Linked DNA regions of Homo sapiens. The protein of the gene in region 2 interacts with the protein of the main gene of each other region in a pairwise test. Each region holds a gene or a part of one and is shown on either strand. Other genes may lie near its edges.

Region 1 (3,749 bases), about 75 Mb from region 2:
CCACGGCAGCCACCCCTTCCCAGCCCCCCATGCCGGAGGGCCTGTCCGCAGCACCCTCCCTTCCCCCACGTACACACATCCTTCCAGTGGGGCCGGGCACAGTAGACAGTGGTGTGCAGGCTTGGAATGCACTTGCACACACACCCCTAGAAGGGCCCAGTCCCCAAAGGTGAGGAAAACCTGTTCTGAGGAATCTGCCTAGTGAGCGAATTCTGTTCTGAGGCCCTTCCACCGTCGCAGGAGTGGGGCCCAGTGTGCGTCAGAGATACCCACAAGGGGGGCAGAGAGAGGGAGAGGGTGAAGCAGGAGGAGGCTGAAAACTTCACGTTTCTTTTTTCCATTTTAGTGACAAGAGTCACACCCAGCCTTTACATAAACATGGCCAAGGAGCCTCTCTGTCTAAGCTTACTTCCCTTGTGGCCGCCCAGCCTCTCCTCCGGGTGACCCTGACACGCTGGGCAGGCTCATGAGGGGCAAACATACAGACCCTGCAAAGATTAGCTGGGCCATCTGACAACACCCATGCCTCCCGCCGGCCTCCATGCGCTACCCTGCATTTATCTCCCGCCTTCCTCATACCAAATCCCCTCCGCAGCCCCACCGCCACTTAAGCACACAGACGGCAGGCACGCACACACAGCCTGCTTGCGGCTGGCCTCTTGGGTCTGAGGCCCACACTGCCCTTGTCACGCCACCTCCCTCCCCACATGTGTTTTCTGACCAGTTTGCCTCCCAGCTCAGCAGCCCAGACAGGCTCCTACAAACAACGTCACAAAAGAATCCTGTGGAGAATGTTGCAAACACACAACCTTCCCCTCGCTTGGCTGCCCATGATCCCATAAACACAACTGGCGCATTCCACCTCGAGCCCCTCACACCAGTGCCAACTGACCCACAGGCCCCTGAGACATACCCCGGGGTTCCTCGCTCCTCTCATGATCTTTGGGATCTGAGTTCTAGACGCGCAGCCCCCATGCAACGCGCTCATCACAGACACGCAAACCCATCCATCGCCCTCTTCACCACTGGACCACACCTCAGCAGGGCCACAGAAATGGGACCCAGACGTGACGCCTTCTGACTCAAAGGCCCACAACCGCCCCCTCCAAAAGGGCACATACACTGCATCCTGGCACCCTCCGCAACACATACAGCATGCCAGCTCTGCAGAAAACAGTTCATAAACAGGTCATAGGTGCAGCACAAGACACACATGCGAGAAAACACATGCTGTAGAAAACATACAGCCCCACATCGAACAAACTCTGCACCCAGCATGCTGTGCCCTGCTCAGAATACCCATCTGTCACCCAAAGCCACAGGGCTCGTCTTGTAACTCTGCCCCACAACACTGGACACCCTTCCTGGCTTTCTATCTCCATGGCCCAGGGAGGGCCCTACCCAGACCCCTGGCTGCCAGCAAACGGTGGTGCCCAGGAGAGGTTTACCTTGCCCCACCACACAGCACAAGACACACGATCTCCAAGACTCACAGCCACAACCCTGCCCCGACGGCGCGGCGGTTCCGGGGCCCCAGCTCGCCCTGCGCACCCCGCACACCCCAACTCTGGGGCGCTCGGCGGCCCACCCCTCCCCCTCTCTGCCTGGCTCCTACGCCATCACCCTCCCAGCAGCTTGCAGCGCTTGCCCGGGCTCACACCCGCCCCACCCCACCCCCAATCTGCCCCACGGGGGGAGGGGGCCATTAGGCTGCAGAATTAACCCTTCAAAGAGGGAGTGAGCACCTCCCCTTCCACGGCCCCAGGCGATCGCGTCCCACGGCCGCCCCTCGCTCGGACGCCATACCAGGGCCCCCTTAGTCGCCCCCCAGCGTCGTGCGCGCCCGGGGGCGGGGCCAGGCTCAGCCCCCGACCCCTGCGCCCCCAGGTCAACCCCAAAGGAGAGCGGTCTGGGCGCGGGGCGCGGTCGGGGCTCCCGCAGCGCCGGGCAGCGGAGAGGGGGCCTGGCAGTTGGCTCCGGTCCGCCCTGGCCCTGCCCAGTTCGCCCCAGGGCCCACCTGACTGCGATGGCGCCGCGTCCGCCAGGCCCGGCTCATCACCGTGGCCGCCCCCGGCCGCTCCGGTTTTGCCCGCCTCCAGCTCCGGCTCCGGCTCCAGCTCCGGCCCTGGCCCCCCCAGCGCCTGGCCCCGGCCCGGCCCCGCTGCCGCCGCCGCCGCCGCCGCTGACATCATCGGCTCCCCCCGCCCCGGTCCTACCCCCACCCCCACCCCCGGAAACAGTCCCCCCCCAGCGCCGCCGCCGCCGCCGCCGAGAGGAGGCCGGCGCAGCGCAGCCGACACCGACACAAAGCTCCGAGCGCCCGACGGCCTTCCCCAGGACTGACCCCCGCGGCATGACACTGCGCCGCGCTGGGCCACCGGGCGGGTGGACACCGAGCGGGGCGCGGGCCGGGCTGCAGCATCCCGGCAGGGGCGCAAGACCACCGACCCCCAGGGAAAGGGCTCCCTCCGCCCTTCCTCCTGCACGCCCTTCACTCAGCGGTGCACACTGCCTGAAAGCATAACACACAGGCTCTCAGGGTGCAGACATGACATGGCAGACTCATAATCAGGCCCGGTGGGACTCACAGACCCAGGGTCGGCACACTCAAAGAGGGCCAGCCCTGGACACACACACACACCCTCTCCAGGAATGCGCAGGAAAGCTCAGCAGGCCGCGGAAAAAGAAGGCCCTGGCCCTGCATACGGGGCACACACGAACGACCACCAGCGCAAATGAACACATGAAGCTGGCTGGGTACTTTGTCCCCACCAGCAGATAGATCCACATCTGTATACTTGAACATAAATGCAGAGGCCTTGGTGTCGGCCTCTGGGGACAGCATCAACAAAACACCAGGTGGAAGCACACACAGAAAAAACACATTCCTGAAACTCCACAGGGACAATCCCAAGAACTCCTCCCTGGTGCTGGAAAATTAAAAACTAAGGAGATGGAGGAGCCAGGGTTCACAGCTCCTTGCCTTAAAACCTCTCTGAGGCTGGGCGCGGTGGCTCACGCCTGTAATCCCAGCACTTTGGGAGGCCGAGGTGGGCGGATCACGAGGTCAGGAGATCGAGACCATCCTGGCTAACACGGTGAAACCCTGTCTCTACTAAAAATACAAAAAAATTAGCCGGGCGTGGTGGCGGGCGCCTGTGGTCCCAGCTACTCGGGAGGCTGAGGCAGGAGAATGGCGTGAACCTGGGAGGCGGAGCTTGCAGTGAGCCGAGATCTCGCCACTGCACTCCAGCCTGGGCGACAGAGACAGACTCCGTCTCAAAAAAAAAACAACAACAAAAAAACCTCTCTGAAACCATGCAAGATATAAATAAACAAATTAATGTAAAGCCACAGAGCTAGCCATAAAAAGAATAAAAGAATCAGACAAACTTTGGAGTCATGGAGACATAAATAGAAAAGAAGCAGAGTTGGGCTGGGCACGGTGGCTCATGCCTGTAATTCCACCACTTTGGGAGGCGGGGGGTGGTGGGGTGGATCACTTGAGGTAAGGAGTTCAAGACCAGCATGGCCAACATGGAGAAACCCCATCTCTACGAAAAATAAAAAATTAGCGGGGTGTGGTGGCACATGCCTGTAATCCCAGGTACTTGGGAGGATGAGGTAGGAGAATTGCTTGAACCCAGGAGGTGGAGGTTGCGGTGAGCCGAGATTGCACGCACCACTGCACTCCAGCCTGGGCAAGAAGAGCAAAACTCCGTCCCAAAAAAAAAAAAAAAAATTAGCCA
Region 2 (3,649 bases):
TATTTTTAGTAGATACGGGGTTTCGCCATGTTGGCCAGGCTGGCCTTCAACTACTGACCTCAGGTGATCCACCTGCCTTGGCCTCCCAAAGTGCTGGGATGACAGGCATGAGCCACGGCGCCCGGCCTGTCAACGTAATTTTAAGAGTTAAGTGTGAAAGAATGTCTATCATATTCATCCTTGCCATTAGTTTTCCTTCACTCCTGACATTCCTAGTTTCCTTCCTTCTGTTGTGTCTAAAGTACCTCCTTTATCAGTTCTTTTAGATCCAGTCTGCTGGTGACAAACTTTTCCTTCATCTGAGAATGTCTTTATTCACTCTCATTCCTGAAGAATATTTTTACTGAATGTATAATTATGGGTTGACAGTTTTTTGCTTTCAGTACTTGAAAAATATTATGCCACTTCCTTCTGAGGAGAAATCTGATGACAGCTGCTGCTGAGAACCCACTACCGCTCCAGTCACTGTCCCCTGTGGGCTGTGCATCGCTCTCTCTGTGTGCTTTCAACAGTTTTTGTCTTTAGGCCGGGCGCAGTGGCTCACGCCTGTAATTCCAGCACTTTGGGAGGCCAGCGCAAGTGGATCACCTGAGGCCAGAAGTTCGAGACCAGCCTGGCCAACATGGTGAAACCCTGTCTCTACTAACAATACAAACGCCACCAGCTGGGCATGGTGGCACATGCCTGTAACCCTAGCTACTTTGGAGGCTGAGGCATGAGAATCGCTCGAACCCAGGAGGCAGAGGTTGCAGTGAGCCGAGATTGTGCCACTGCACTCCAGCCTGGGCAACAGAGACTCCGTCTCAAAAAACAAGAAATTCATTTCAAATATAAAAGAGAGAGGTAGGTAAAAAGAAAAAGGGATGAAAAAGTTATACCACGCGAATGCTAATCAAAAGAAAGCCCGAGTGGATTAATTAATATCAGACAAGGTAGACTTCAGAACAAAGAATGTTGCCAGACAAAGAGGAAGATTACGTAACAATATAAGGGTCAATTATCCTAAAAAAAAAAAACCCTAAATGTATACACATCTAACAACAAAGATACAAAATATATGAAACAAAAACAAAGAATCGTGATTTAAAAAATAAAGATCTATATTAAAACAGGAATAGAAAGAAACTTCCTTAACCTCCCTCCACTACCCCCACCACAAAAAACCTTCAGCAAAAACTCAACCTAAAAAAGTGAAATGCTGAAAGTTCTTCCTCTGGGATTAGGGAGAAAGACAGCTATTATCAACATCATACCGGAGAGTTTAGCTAGGGGCGATAATGCAAGAAGAAGTAAACAATATCAGCATTGGAAAAGAAAAATAAAACCTCCCTTATTTTATTTTACTTTATTTTTTTTGAGATGGAGTCTCGCTCTGTTACCTAGGCTGGAGTGTAGTGGTGCAATCTCGGCTCACTGCAACCTCCGCCTCCTGGGTTCAAGTGATTCTCCTGCCTCAGCCTCCCAAGTGGCTGGGATTACAGGTGCCTGCCACCACGCCCAGCTAATTTTTTTGTATTTTTAGTAGAGACGGGGTTTCACCATGTTGGCCAGGCTGGTCTCAAACTCCCGACCTCAGGTGATCCACCCACCTCGGCCTCCCAAAGTGCTGGGATTACAGGCGTGAGCCACTGCGCCCGGCAAAAACCTCCCCTATTTGAGACAATCTGTGCCAGTGGAGTGTCCTGTCTGGCCCCTCCCTTTCTTTTCCTGCCTTAGGCCTGCAGATGGGGCCTGCCTCCCCTACACTAAGGGGGGCTGTGGCTCCAGCAGGGTGAAGGCATCTGTGTGGAAGGCAGCCAGGCTGGGCTGTCAAGCTCGGTGATGCTGGGGAGGCATCCAGGCAGGAGAGGGGCCTGCAAATAGGGGAAGGGGCCACAGCAGCAATGGGGGATTGGTTACACCAAGAGGACTCGATCAAAGTAACTGTGTTAGTGATAATGGGCGAGCCAGGTTTCTCATTATTGGGAAAGGAAGTTAGAATAATGAAAAAGAAAGCTAGAATGCTAGAATGAACCTTTTGATGTTGGACTAACCACAATGGAATAGATTAGCCTATGAGTTTGTCTTGAAATTAAGACCTTCCATTCACCAAAGACACCAGTGAAGGAATAAAAGGCAAGCCATAGACTGGGAGAAGATATTTGCAACACATATAACCAACGCTAGGCTCATATTCAGCATAAAATACCCTAAAAAAATCTATGACAAAGGGCAGATGATCCAATAAACAATGGGCAAAAGACATGGCCTGGAGCTCCAAAAGAGGGGCTGTCGAAAGGCCAATTCTATGGACTGAGCTCTGCCCCCCAAAATTTACGGGTTGAAGCTCTCACCCCGAACATGACTGTATTTGGAGACAGCGCCTCTGAGGAGGCAGCTAAGGTTACATGAGGTCCTAAGGCTGGGGCCCTGGACTGTTGTCCTTACAAGAAGAGGAAGAGTCGGGCGCGGTGTCTCACGCCTGTCATCCCAGCACTTTGGGAGGCTCAGGTAGGCAGATCACGAGGTCAGGAGTTCGGGACCAGCCTGACCAACGTGGTGAAACCTCATCTCTACTAAAAATACAAAAATTAGCCGGGCGTGGTGGCATGCACCTGTAATCCCAGCTACTCAGGAGGCTGAGGCAGGAGAATCGCTTGAACTTGGGAGGCAGAGGCTGCAATGAGCCAAAATCATGCCACTGCACTCCACCCTGGGCAACAGAGCAAGACTCTGTCCCAAAAAAAAAAAAAAAAAAGAGGAAGAGACACCAGGAGTGAGCATGCAGCGGGGGAGGAGTCACGTGAGCACGCAGGGGGAGAGTCCACATGAGCACGCAGGGGAGAGGGTGCCGTCTGCAAGCCACAGAGAGGCCTCAGGAGGAACCCACCCTGCCGGCAACCTGATCTCTGACATCCAGACTCCAGAAGTGAGAAAATAAAACCGTTGTTTAAGCCACTCAGGCTGTGGTGTTGAGTTACGGCAGCCCTAGCCAATCATACGCCAATGCACACAGGAAGAGATGTTCAATCCCACGAATCTCATGAATTTGCAAATTAAACCAAAATAGGATGTGCTACGTGTCCACTAGAGGGAACAGAAGGAGCCGCTGACCACGTAAGTGTTGGCGCGCATGCAGCACCACGGCTACCTCGCACGATGTGGATGGATGCTTTGGAGAAGAATCTGGCATTATCAAGTGAAACACAGTGTAGGTCTGAAGACGCCAGACAGAAGCACAGGTGCCACAGAATTCCATTCACACCAAAACAGGGAGCGCTGACTGCAGTGAGCAGCCAGGGCACGTGGGCTCCGGAGGGAGCACAAGGAATTCCATTCACACCAAAACAGGGAGCGCTGACTGCAGTGAGGAGCCAGGGCACGTGGGCTCCGGAGGGAGCACAAGGAATTCCATTCACACCAAAACAGGGAGCGCTGACTGCAGTGAGGAGCCAGGGCACGTGGGCTCCGGAGGGAGCGCGAGGAATTCCATTCACACCAAAACAGGGAGCGCTGACTGCAGTGAGGAGCCAGGGCACGTGGGCTCTGGAGGTAGCTCCAGGAATTCCATTCACACCAAAACAGGGAGGGCTGACTGCAGTGAGGAGCCAGGGCACGTGGGCTCTGGAGGGAGCACAAGGAATTCCATTCACACCAAAACAGGGAACGC
Region 3 (3,649 bases), on a different chromosome or scaffold from region 2:
TTAGTAAAATTACATTCTCAATATGCATTATCAAATAATCAACTGGTTTTAAAAAGATTTATATATAAAATAAAAAATCAAGTAAAGTTCAAATGATATCTTTTCAAAAAATTTTCTTAAAACTATATAAATTAAGGAAAGTCAAAAGGCTTAAAAACAAAAGGTATAAAATCATCCAGAAATTTTGTCACAATGTAACGTTTTAAGCACCATATTAATATCACCACTAAAAATAATGCTACCACCCTCCCCTGAAATTCATTAATTCAAGAATTCACAGTTCCCCTTTCCTTCTGCCAGAGCATATCGTCATCCAGAGTATGGCATGGGTCTGAGGTTATTAAGCAAACACACTTATCACCTCCTACCTCATCTGCTGCCTTCATTATTGCATTAGCAATCTTTGGATCAAGACCATAATCCTGGTTTACTTCAGCGGCCGCTCGCTTCAAGATGCCAAAAGCTTTAATAACTGGGGTCTAAAATTAATCAGAAAAATATTTCAAATTTACAATTTTACTTAAGCATGGAAGTTTATTATTTTGGCAGATGCAAAAGCTATACATAAAACAATAACAATAAAACAGTAACACTATAGCTCTAAAATGTTTCGGTTATAGAGAAAGATTATAGACAGGAATTCATGAACCAAGAATCAACATTATCATAGATCTATTTGTTTAAGGAACCAAATAAAAACAAATACATTGACTCTTCATATATATATGTGTGTACGTCTCCCACATACATATACACACATATTCACACGAATACAATCCTATGCACAAATACACACAATAAATTATATGTGTTTATTTCATATACTATAAATAAAAACAAATTTAGTACTCAATCTTTTCACCAGCAAGAACCATTATTTTCTCTTACTGGATCCCACGTTACATTATAATTGTTTCCTTCCCCTCTTAAAAAAATAAATAAATAAGGGATATATTTAACTGCCAATCAGTATGAGACTACCAGTGACTGACTGGGTTATCATTTCACCCCAAGGCCAAAAAGCAATCTATTCTACTTAGCTAGTAAAGCCTTAATACTCAGTAACTCCCTGGACATTTCTCTCAGAAGAATTATTTTTTTAAACCCAAGATTCTCCAGACCTAAAGGTGACAGCTTCCGATATATATAAAACCCCATTAATGCAGATATTTTCATTGTCTATCCCAAATCACCTCACCAAGCTTGAAAAGGATAAACTGAAATGAAAACCTAGTTTTTATAAGACAAGTGAATTGTGAGTTCTTGTCAAAATTAATAATACAGATTGTTGTATAGATCCCACACCAGGTTTGAATGGGGAAAGAGTAGAAGGGAGAAAGGGAAGAAAGGAAGAGAATGATGAATGTATAAGAGAGAACCTGCTATCTCTGGAATCAAAGTAGAAAAAGCCAAGAAAAGTAAGAAATAAGACACATTAAAAACATAAACCTGGACCAGAGTAAGTATAAGCTGAGGGTCAAATAGAAAAGGAAAACCAGAAAATTTGAAATTTCAATTTTAAGTAACTAAAATTAAAACATTAGAAACGTTTGACTCAAACGAAATGAGGACAGATGGCACACAGGATTAGAAACTTAAAAACTTTAAACACAAAAACAAATGGGAATTTAAATCTCCACAGTAACAAACACTGAGGTAGTGGGCTGAACCACTACCAAGGGCAAAGGTGAATGCCAATCAACGCTGGCCATCTGAATGGAGTGAATGACCCCCAGTGTTTATGGACCATAAAAATAAAAAAGGGTCATTCACAGCAGAAAGAGGTTCAACGAACACCATAAAATGGCAAAATGTATCACTAGAGAGAAAAGACAGGTCACTTTATTCTTAATTTATTCACATTAGATGTTCATAATCTTTTTAGCTTTGTTTTCCTCTGGACCTCAAGTAAAAAGGGTTGAGTTTAATCATACTACTCAGTTTAGAGTACATACAGACTGTTTTACACATAATAAAGTTCAGAAAGTATGACAAAATCGAGACCCCAGGTGTCTGCCTTTCACAGGTGTGCAATCCCAATGGCTGTGCTGTCTCTGGAGCAGCAGCAGCAGGAACCATGCCCCACCAGAACCACAAAACATGCTGGTGACACAGATCAATGAAAACGGCAGCCATGCTCACTCCCACCAACACTAGCTGGGGCTGACCTCCTCCTTAGTCTCTGGAGTTGAATAATATGAGATTATTTTAGGATTGGTCACTACCCTTTTTCACCTAACCACGTAGTCAAACTATGTTTACCTCACCACCAAGAAGGCTGTAGATGGCAATGACAAAGATATTCTCATCAAAGATTCAGCTGCCTGTTGTAAAGTTCTATATACCTGTCAAGAGGCAGTCTTGAAGGCTTAGGAATGACTTAAAATTATTGAAAATAAAAGCATATTTATAAGATAAGTGTTAAACAATATCTCACAGGATGAAGCCTATCTACTTCTAGGCTTACTAGCCTATCCTGCATTGACTATTTTTCATACTCCGGTTGGGCTCCCGTAGAATATGTTATGCATTTCTCAATTCTTTTCACACTTTAACATCTCTGAAATCAAGATGTATCTTGTAATCAATGGTAAGTCACAACCTTAATTGGTAGCATTTTTCTTTCTTAGTGGTGCCTATTGGTGCATCTTCTAATTAATGGCATCTTAAATTTAATTGAATGTGGTAGAAAGTTTTCTCATCATTTAATCATTCATATGGAATTGAATAAATACTTATATATTATCTATTATATGTCAGACATGGTTAAGAGTAATACTTTGATGTGTTTGTGTACTATACACTTTTTAGGAAACTGAAACCAAAATACAAAGTGTAATTTTAAAAAATCTCAGTTTTAAATTAGTGGGGGAAAAAAGAATGAGTATTGAAATAAAAATATTTACAAACTGTAGAACCCTAGTAAAAATCTGTAAATACCCAGCAAGAGTGAAAAGACAATCATTTAGTTCTGCCAAATAAAAATCCAAAATAACTATTCACAATAGCAAAGACATGAAATCAACCCAAATGTCCATCAATAAAGGATAAAGAAAAAGTTGTATATATCCACCATGGAATATTATGCAACCATAAAAAAGAATGAGATCATGTCCTTTGCAGAGATATGGATGGAGCTAGAAGCTGTGACCCTCAGCATACTAACAGAGGAACAGAAAACCAAACCCGCATGTTCTCACTTGTAAGTGGGAGCTGAACAATGAGAACATATGGACACAAGGAGGGGAACAAAGCACACAGGGGCCTGTGGGCGGAGGGGGAGCAGCAGAAAAAATAGCTAATGCCGGGTTTTAATATCTAGGTGATGGGTTGAGAGGTGCAGCAAACCACCATGGCACACATTTACCTATGCAACAAAACTGCATATCCTGCATGTGTATCCCGGAACTTAAAATTAAATTAATTTTTTTTTTTTTGAGACGGAGTCTCACTCTGTCGCCAGGCTGGAGTGCAGTGGTGCGATCTCAGCTCACTGCAACCTCCGCCTCCCGGGTTCAAGCAATTCTCCTGTCTCAGCCTCCAGAGTAATTGGGACTACAGGCGCGCGCCACCGTGCCCGGCTAATTTTTGTATTTTTAGTAGAGACAGAGTTTCACCATGTTGGCCAGGATGGTCTCGATCTCTTGAC

What was found.
Region 1: the proteins of CCDC57 (region 2) and ZBTB4 interact in binary tests that used the Homo sapiens proteins (3 or more experiments, as listed by UniProt).
Region 3: the proteins of CCDC57 (region 2) and FH interact in binary tests that used the Homo sapiens proteins (3 or more experiments, as listed by UniProt).

Annotation. Positions count from the first base shown.
Region 1 is NC_000017.11:7,477,439-7,481,187, forward strand, and holds the start of ZBTB4 (zinc finger and BTB domain-containing protein 4), read right to left. Parts: upstream 2,194-3,749; 5' UTR 2,018-2,193; intron 1,995-2,017; exon of another isoform or gene 1,449-1,994; intron 1-1,448. UniProt on the Homo sapiens protein: Transcriptional repressor with bimodal DNA-binding specificity. Represses transcription in a methyl-CpG-dependent manner.
Region 2 is NC_000017.11:82,167,789-82,171,437, forward strand, and holds part of CCDC57 (coiled-coil domain-containing protein 57), read right to left. Parts: intron 1-3,649. UniProt on the Homo sapiens protein: Pleiotropic regulator of centriole duplication, mitosis, and ciliogenesis. Critical interface between centrosome and microtubule-mediated cellular processes. Centriole duplication protein required for recruitment of CEP63, CEP152, and PLK4 to the centrosome.
Region 3 is NC_000001.11:241,513,235-241,516,883, forward strand, and holds part of FH (fumarate hydratase, mitochondrial), read right to left. Parts: intron 480-3,649; coding exon 369-479; intron 1-368. UniProt on the Homo sapiens protein: Catalyzes the reversible stereospecific interconversion of fumarate to L-malate. Experiments in other species have demonstrated that specific isoforms of this protein act in defined pathways and favor one direction over the other.